Regions from separate parts of the Homo sapiens genome. Here region 2 is linked to region 1. The links come from fine-mapping of genetic effects on gene expression. A gene starts in region 1. The other region holds a variant in brackets. All regions are shown on one strand. Distances are from middle to middle.

Region 1 (4,399 bases):
CCCATCCATGCCCCCATCTGCATGCACACATACATGCATATAACTTCATTTCTCAGTGTTTTTTTCTCCATGAATGGTAGCACCATTCTCTTTCAAGAAAGAGAAATACTTCCCCTTGGGATTATCCTATCTCTACTTATTGCTGCAGGGGCTTCCAAAATTAGGTTTTCTGTGTTCAGTCTTGCATTCACACTTCTGAAACCCAGAGCTGACCGAGACAAATTCTTCAACTTCCTGTCAGTCCCAACATAGATTTAAAATTCCTAACCTGGCTCATGAGGTTCACCATGTATTCCTGCTTCCCTAAGTCAGCCTCATATCACACCAACCTGTGTGTGGAGTGGCTAAATACTCTAGCCAGGCAAGCTCTCTCAGTTCTTCTACCTGGCTCCTCTGGAGCCCTCCTTATTGCTCATCCCATTCTTAGCCTGATTCAAGATTCCTGGTCCTTCAAATCTCTCTTTAAGTGTCCTTACCTGGATCTTTCTCTAGTTAGTACAAATTTTTCTATCTACCATTGGAGCGAACATTTTTTGAAACTTTGTATCAGTCCTGCCTTACTCTTGGTGGAATCCTGTGGTCCTAGTCAAGTGCCTGCTCCATGAATGTGCTGAATAAATGAATAAGCATTTTAATTGTGTATCTGTCATTAGTGTCAGATGTGTTATTTATTCCAGCATGGTTTTAGCACACAGACACACTCTTTGATGCAGACTTTTCTTTTCTTTTTACATATAGCAACAATAAAAAACTAGACTTTCATCTCCTGAAAATATCAGTCTAATAATCACCTATGGCTGTCTCTCTGGTTGCTGAAGGAAAAAAAAAAAAAAGGCAGGGCACACCTGGATTGCATTAGAATGAGACTCACTACCCAGTTCAGGTGTGTTGCGTTGTGGGTCTCCGGCACATTTCAGAGGCTCATTAGGACCCTGACCCCACACTGGGGTTTACACCCCTAAAAGCAGGTGTGTCCCGTGGCAACTGAGTGGGTGCGTGAAAAGGGGGGATCATCAATTACCAGCTGGAGCAATCCGAATCGGTTAAAGTGAATCAAGTCACAGTGCTTCCTTAACCCAACCTCTCTGTTGGGGTCAGCCACAGCCTAAACCGCCTGCCGTTCAGCCTGAGAGGCTGCTGCTAGCCTGCTCACGCATGCAGCCCGGGCTGCAGAGGAAGTGTGGGGAGGAAGGAAGTGGGTATAGAAGGGTGCTGAGATGTGGGTCTTGAAGAGAATAGCCATAACGTCTTTGTCACTAAAATGTTCCCCAGGGGCCTTCGGCGAGTCTTTTTGTTTGGTTTTTTGTTTTTAATCTGTGGCTCTTGATAATTTATCTAGTGGTTGCCTACACCTGAAAAACAAGACACAGTGTTTAACTATCAACGAAAGAACTGGACGGCTCCCCGCCGCAGTCCCACTCCCCGAGTTTGTGGCTGGCATTTGGGCCACGCCGGGCTGGGCGGTCACAGCGAGGGGCGCGCAGTTTGGGGTCACACAGCTCCGCTTCTAGGCCCCAACCACCGTTAAAAGGGGAAGCCCGTGCCCCATCAGGTCCGCTCTTGCTGAGCCCAGAGCCATCCCGCGCTCTGCGGGCTGGGAGGCCCGGGCCAGGACGCGAGTCCTGCGCAGCCGAGGTTCCCCAGCGCCCCCTGCAGCCGCGCGTAGGCAGAGACGGAGCCCGGCCCTGCGCCTCCGCACCACGCCCGGGACCCCACCCAGCGGCCCGTACCCGGAGAAGCAGCGCGAGCACCCGAAGCTCCCGGCTGGCGGCAGAAACCGGGAGTGGGGCCGGGCGAGTGCGCGGCATCCCAGGCCGGCCCGAACGCTCCGCCCGCGGTGGGCCGACTTCCCCTCCTCTTCCCTCTCTCCTTCCTTTAGCCCGCTGGCGCCGGACACGCTGCGCCTCATCTCTTGGGGCGTTCTTCCCCGTTGGCCAACCGTCGCATCCCGTGCAACTTTGGGGTAGTGGCCGTTTAGTGTTGAATGTTCCCCACCGAGAGCGCATGGCTTGGGAAGCGAGGCGCGAACCCGGCCCCCGAAGGGCCGCCGTCCGGGAGACGGTGATGCTGTTGCTGTGCCTGGGGGTCCCGACCGGCCGCCCCTACAACGTGGACACTGAGAGCGCGCTGCTTTACCAGGGCCCCCACAACACGCTGTTCGGCTACTCGGTCGTGCTGCACAGCCACGGGGCGAACCGATGGTGAGTAGAGTTGGACTGATGCGCCCTCAGCAGCTCAGAGCGGCGTGAGAATGGCGCCCTAGGGATTCCCTGCCCGATTCAAACTTTCCTCCCTCCCAAGGAGGCAGGAGGGAAACGCTGCGAGAGCCAGCTCGCTGGAAATCTGCCAGGGAAACTAACTTATCTTGGGGCGGCAGCGCCCCGGGTGCGTTATGGTGCAAGGTCTTGGAGCTTCGAGTCGGGGGTGGTGGGCGGAGGAGGAGGTGGGGAAGCTGCCCTGCTGCGGACTGCACATCTGTGGCGACAGGGAGCTCAGTGGGCAGCACAGCTCACGTCTGAGCGCACGTGCACGTGTCTCGCTTTAGGCTCCTAGTGGGTGCGCCCACTGCCAACTGGCTCGCCAACGCTTCAGTGATCAATCCCGGGGCGATTTACAGATGCAGGATCGGAAAGAATCCCGGCCAGACGTGCGAACAGCTCCAGCTGGGTGAGTTGGGTATGGGACCAGGAGTTAGTGACCTCCCGACCCCCCATGTGGACCCCACCATAGGGCAAGTCCTGGAAAGATTCACGTTGCCTGTTACTTCTGGTTTAAAGAGCATAAAGTTTTCAGTTTCAACTCCATCTCATCTTGCCTCCTTAATATAAAAGGGATTCCCTTTCTGTTAATATCGTTCTCCCTTTTCCTTATGGCAATGATTGCAGTACTCTGACAACTATGCTAGAGAAATTTCTTATGATACCTTCTCTTCATCTCTCCCCGTCTCTCCGTGTGTAAAGCACATTTTAGACTCTCTCAGCGTATTAAGGACAGGATCCAGCTAAGCCAAGACTTGAGAATTTTATTTCCATCTTTGACCTATCAACCCTCTTAAAGAACAGGCTAAGGAGCATATCAGGAATAGCAATTGGAATTGATCCCATATCCCGTCGTTTAACCTAAAGGCCTAAAAAAAAAAGTGATAGTTTTACTTACAATATACAATCTAAAAGAAAAGGAAAATTGGCATCTTCATCGTTAATGTAGTATAATTTTCCATTCCCAAAACCGTCATCCAAAACTCATGTTATATGGGTCCATCTTTTTGCAGTCATTTCTCAATGTCTCAGATTTGTGACAAGTTGAAAAATGTGTACTGATAGAGGGGAGAAGTTTCATGTTTCAAAGCCAAAGACAAGTTTGTTGCACACAGGCAAGTGGGGAAAGAGGAAGGAATATTAAATAACAAGACCTATCTTGTTCCAAAGTGTTACTGCTATATATATTGCTTAACTTTTTTCCCCTTAAAGCAACCCTGGGTCATGGTTGACATTGTTCCTAGTTTATGTATGAGGACTGTGGCTCAGAGTTGCAAATACCTTTTTAAAAGTTACTTAGCTAGTGACTGATAGGTGGGAACTAAAGTCAAACTAGGGTCTGAATGCGTCCAAAGTCTAAGCCATTTTCTTCCATGTATGTATCTTCAATGCAAATAAAATTAAGTGAATGGTTTAATATGTTGTCTGCTGAGCTGATGGGTCATCTGTAAACGGTGAATAAAATTGGTACTTCTTTATATTTCTTTGCTATAAATGGACTTTTGAGATTAGTTATTGGATCTTTAACTTCTTTTGTATTTTATAGTAGTCTTTGCTCTTTTTCAAACTGTGAAGCTGGTTCCCTTCATTCAGATGAATTCAGATAGAGTATAAACATAATGGAATTTTTACTTTTAACTCAGAGCACCTATAAAAGTCTACGAGTTGTCTGTAGCATGTAGAATAAGCCCTAGCCTCTTGTTAAGCATCCTCAATACCAGAAATCACAGTAGGAATGCATAAAACATTCACAGACCCATACATTTTGGAATGATTTTGCAAAGCATAATTTTCATTGCATGAGAGAGTTGTGGGTGAAGAATTAGGGAGTGGAGCCGACAACTTTGGTCTGCCAGAGGATCTTGGCAAGGTCTCAGGAGGGAGCAATTTTATTTCTGTTGTCCTGTCATAGTTTCCTGATCCATGACATTATAACTACTGATATTTAGTGCCTACTTCCTGTCTGGATGGACACTGAATCTATTTCTGGATGTCTGTGTTTAACTGGATAAATCATGACATAATACTGTATTAAATTTAAGATAATGCCTGTCAATGGAAGGAAAAAATTGTTTGGGCATGTGTAGCATGGGAGTTGACTGTTCTCAGAGAAATGTAAACATAGTAGATATGTCATAGAT
Region 2 (4,399 bases), 220 kb before region 1:
CCCTAAGCCTTAGTTTCTCTTTAACAAAATGATTATGGTAAATAAATCTTGTAATACTTAAATGAGATCAGATGAGAAAGGAGTATAATGTTCTTTTAAAAATGCTTTGTAAATATTAGTTTATTATGAGTAAAGGTAAAATGCTGCTTTTGAAGGACAGTTTCATCTTGTGATTTTAAGATTGAACTTAAAAAAAAAAAAGACTAAACTGACTACCAGTTCCTAGCCAGGCAAAGTTACCTAAATTGGGGGAATTTATTTGGGGAAATAAATTTTGGTGCCTTGGCTTTCTTATCTGTATAACTGAGATGACAGTAATATATGACCTCACAGAGTTTTTGCTGAGATGCAGTGAGATGGTCTGGATCCAACACTTGAGTACAGTTCCTGCCACGGAATGATGATTTGGCTGCTATTGTTATATTTTAATACAAGGGTAAATAGGAGTCTTTCTTTTGTGTTTTGCACTGTTGGCGATTCTGGAATGGTTTACTAATATTTTTACTTTAATCCTGGAGTTATACAGTGATACCTTCTAACACACAGCTGGCACTTTGGAGAGATTACAATGACAAAAAATAAAAGATGGGGACAGACCCTTGAAAAGGGAATGGAAGAATAGTTCTAGGTTTTATTTTGTCTTGTTTTAAAAGATATTTCTATTGCTAAATTAACTTTATTTTTAAAAGCATGGATTAAAGAAGTATTAGTAAACGATAAAAGAAAATGCACAGGTGTGAGGGTTTTGAGCCTGAGCTCATAGTCTCCCCCCTGTCAAACATAACTGTCTATGGACATTGAATAAATCATTTAATATCATTGGCTCCAAAAGAGATGGATAAACAAGATTTGTGCTTCTCAAGCTTGACCACATATTAGAATAACCAGGAGTACTTTTGCAAAACAGTATATCTGGCTCCACCGGGTCCACCTCAGAGCAATTGAATTATAATTTCTCTGGTGAAGAACCAGTCTGCAAGCTCATCAGTTGTTTAGGGTACACAGTGAGGGTTATGGACCACCTGACTGGGTGATCATTAGGGTCTCTTCCAGCTCTGAAATCTTGTATATCTGTACATATCTTTTTACTACAGTCACATACATAAAAAGTACTTCTTAAAATGAAAACATATGTGGCATATTTAGAGAAGGTAAAGGAATTTGATTTAAGCTATTGGCTTCTGGAAATAAGCAAGTGATTTTCTTGAAGCTTATTGTAAACTATCAACCTCTCTTGCCTTAAGCGAGATGTAATGATTATACTTCAACCTACAGGCTGTATATTTGACTCAGCTATCCCCTTTTCAGTTTATCTCTGTTTTTTATGTGAAGAGTTCTGCCATTTTAGTAGCATGGATCTAATGGAGGCAAAATTCTTAATGCGATATTTAAAAACCATAAATAAGGCCTCACTTATGGACTACAGGAAGTGAGAAAATATTTCCAGAGAGGGATTTTCTCACCCACTGATCTTAGCATAAAGCATCAGCCTGAAAAAATGTTTTTTTAAATAGAAATATTCAATGATAAACACCAATAATTTCCATTTATATCATTAAAACGATGGAAGGAACATATGGCTACGATTAGAAGAATGAACGTTAGTTATGAGGCTGCATTTGCAAGAGACATTAATTAGAACTGAGAGTACCTCAAGTACTTGACTCAGGAAACAAATTGGTTTAATAAGCTGCATGGTCTGCAGATGCCCTTCCCTCTTCTTTTTCCGTGATTCC[A/G]AATAAAGCAGTTTTATCTGTGCAGAGCTAAGTACACTTGAGGAGTCACATGATTTTGTGCTTCACTTCATTTATGTTTGGAAGCAAGTTGACATGACCCTCATATGGGTAAGGTATCTCTTACAGCAATATACATCCAGGTGAGGGCATAGTCATGTTAAATCAGGATCAGATTTTAAACTTTCTATTCAGAGACTTGCCCTTAAAGAGAACTCCATTCATTTGAATACTACAATTGAGTTGCTGATGTGCTGTCTCAACTCCTGGAGACGCTCTGCTCTGGGGTGTACTTGAGTGGAGGACACTCCACATGCCCTGTCTTGTGCTTGTATCAGCTCCTGCTGCTTCCTTTGATCAGCAGTTGATAAAATCTCCCCTGAGGTTTGTGTAGCTGATGAAAGCCATGTATCTGGGATAAGCCTTTGGAATTTGATTTTTGGCATTATCATAATGTTAATATCCATTAGTACATTTTACAACATAAGCACAAGGCCTTAGATGCAGGGAATTCTCTGGTGAATACCAACTGGGGCAGCTGACATGTGGGTTATGTGGAACCCTCAAAAGCATATACTGTATCACTTTCTTAAGCTAAGAGAGCTGTAATGACTCTCTTGGGACAAATAAACATTTTGTGTGGAATCTCCACTTGCTTAATTGCTAGCCTTGAGTTTTAGAGTCCTTGCTACCCTAAGTAAACTTATTTTAATAAAAGTAAACATTTTCAGCTGTTTTTGGCTCTTGGTGAGGAGGCAAAGGTCAAATGGGAATTGAGGAAGAGCTTGATCACTCAGTAAGGCAACATTTGAAGAGTGAAATAGAAAGGTGGGATATGTAGAGAAGAAGACCAGGGTAAAAGCAAGGTTCTGGAGACAGGCTTCCTGGCTTTTAGCTTACTGCTTGCTTGCTGTAAATCTCAAGGAAGCTACTAAACTCTCTGTGCCTCAGTTTCCTCATCTATAAAATGGGTTTAATGACCAAATGAGTTAATACTTGTGATTAGCATAGTGCCTGCACATCAGAAGCAGTCAATAAGTGTTACTGTTCATAAGCAGAGCCCTGTGCTCGTAGTACCTTTACTATCAAGTGGCTATCTTTCTTTAGAACCAGGTCAATTTTATGAGCCTAATTTAAGATTCTTTTACTTTCCTGAGGCTGGTGCCAAATGGTTTTGTGATGCTAGAGGAGTGTGAACCTCAAATACCAAACCGTCCTTGCTTATAAAGTGTAGAATAATTTAATGCCGCTTATAGGTATGTTGGAGAAAAAAATAAGGACACCCTTGTAAATATTTTCAGCTCCACTGGGTGCAGCAGAATCAGAAGGTGGTATGTATAATAATTCAGCTTATCAGTCAAAACTTCAAAAAAAAATTAACTCCATGACGTGGGACATTTTCTAGTAGATAAATCTTTTACTGTTTAGATCTCCGAATCACAATAAGAAATGCTATTGAAGTATAACTGATTCCCAGATTGTGTCAATACAAGTATTTAGTTTCCGCCATTTATTAAAAACAAAACAAAAACTCGTTCACTTATTTATTTTTAATATACCCCACGTAGTTCCAGAAAGTATTTAATGCCACTGAAAAGCACTTGTTGAATAGGTTCAGAAAACAGGAGTTAGATACTTTTATCATCTTGTGGCTTTCAATATCACCACTTGATAGAAGTCAATAATAGTCTTCTTCCAAGTTACACTTAAACACAGATCTTTGACTGCCACATGTATTACTCATTAAAATCCAATAGAAACAAAATAAAAAACTGTCTAGGCCACTTGTTAGGGAGTTCAGGATTCAATATCCATATTATTTATTATTATATTATGAATGAACTATACATTGATACCACAGTGGTCATGTTATCATAGTTCTTGACACTTCTTGGAAGGCCCTTCTTTCTGACCCCACCCAATCTTCAGTTCCTCTAATGTGTTTGTGGTTACTTTTCTTATAGCCTAATTGGGTCCTAAAGTAAGAAATGAATGTGTGGTGGTCAGGGAGTTGTTTCCTTTGACACATACTAGGACTTTAGTAAGTGGTGGTGGTGGTGGTGGTCAATGTTCCTTTCATACAGAACATAATAAGCTTGAAGAAAATTGAAGGAGCCCAGGGAGCCTGGGGTATAGTGCTACCATTCAACTAACTGTAAGAACTTGGTCAAGATGCTTGATTCCCTTCAAACTCAGCTCTTAATCTACAAAATGAAGCGAATGAGCTAGTTCCATATTCTCCTTTCTAACTTGCAATTATCTTAAGATACTAGGCATCAGCATAATTGTAGACCTTTTAGCAGTTACAGTATGACCTAAAAAATTTCTTAAAATTGTGTTTAGTTTGCACGTATAACACAAAACCAAAATATTGAGGTTGTAATATATACAGATACCTGACACAGATAATCAAAGCTTTTCATTCTTTTATATCATTTTACTGTCATATTATTATGTGTCCCTTGGCTTCTACCATTTTATTATTCTTGGAGGGAGGTTTATCTATGTATTTATTTACTGCATGAAATGCAGACATATAATTGAGAAGGAATATATTCTTGTCAGGCAAGTTGCTAACATTAACATAAATTAATTCAAGAAATATTTATTCAGTCATCTAGTAAATAGGAATAAAACAATGAATAACACATGGGGCTTGCCCCAAG

The links. PIP is the estimated chance that this variant, and not a neighbour inherited with it, causes the effect.
Region 2: its variant is the best candidate, but not a certain one, in a credible set for the expression of ITGA4 in whole blood (Lepik 2017, PIP 0.57).

The regions. Positions count from the first base shown.
Region 1 is chr2:181,455,651-181,460,049 of GRCh38, forward strand. ITGA4 (integrin subunit alpha 4) reads left to right here and starts at 1,736. Exons shown (of 28, transcript NM_000885.6): 1 at 1,736-2,201; 2 at 2,546-2,667. The coding sequence starts at 2,005. RefSeq lists enhancers at 1,243-1,352, 2,073-2,262, 2,323-2,372, 2,733-2,782 and a silencer at 1,533-1,922.
Region 2 is chr2:181,232,522-181,236,920 of GRCh38, forward strand. The region is part of intron 2 of LINC01934 (long intergenic non-protein coding RNA 1934); the gene reads left to right. Among named protein-coding and RNA genes, the nearest start is that of MIR4437, 71 kb to the right of the region's middle. The variant A/G (reference allele first, on the strand shown) is at 1,737.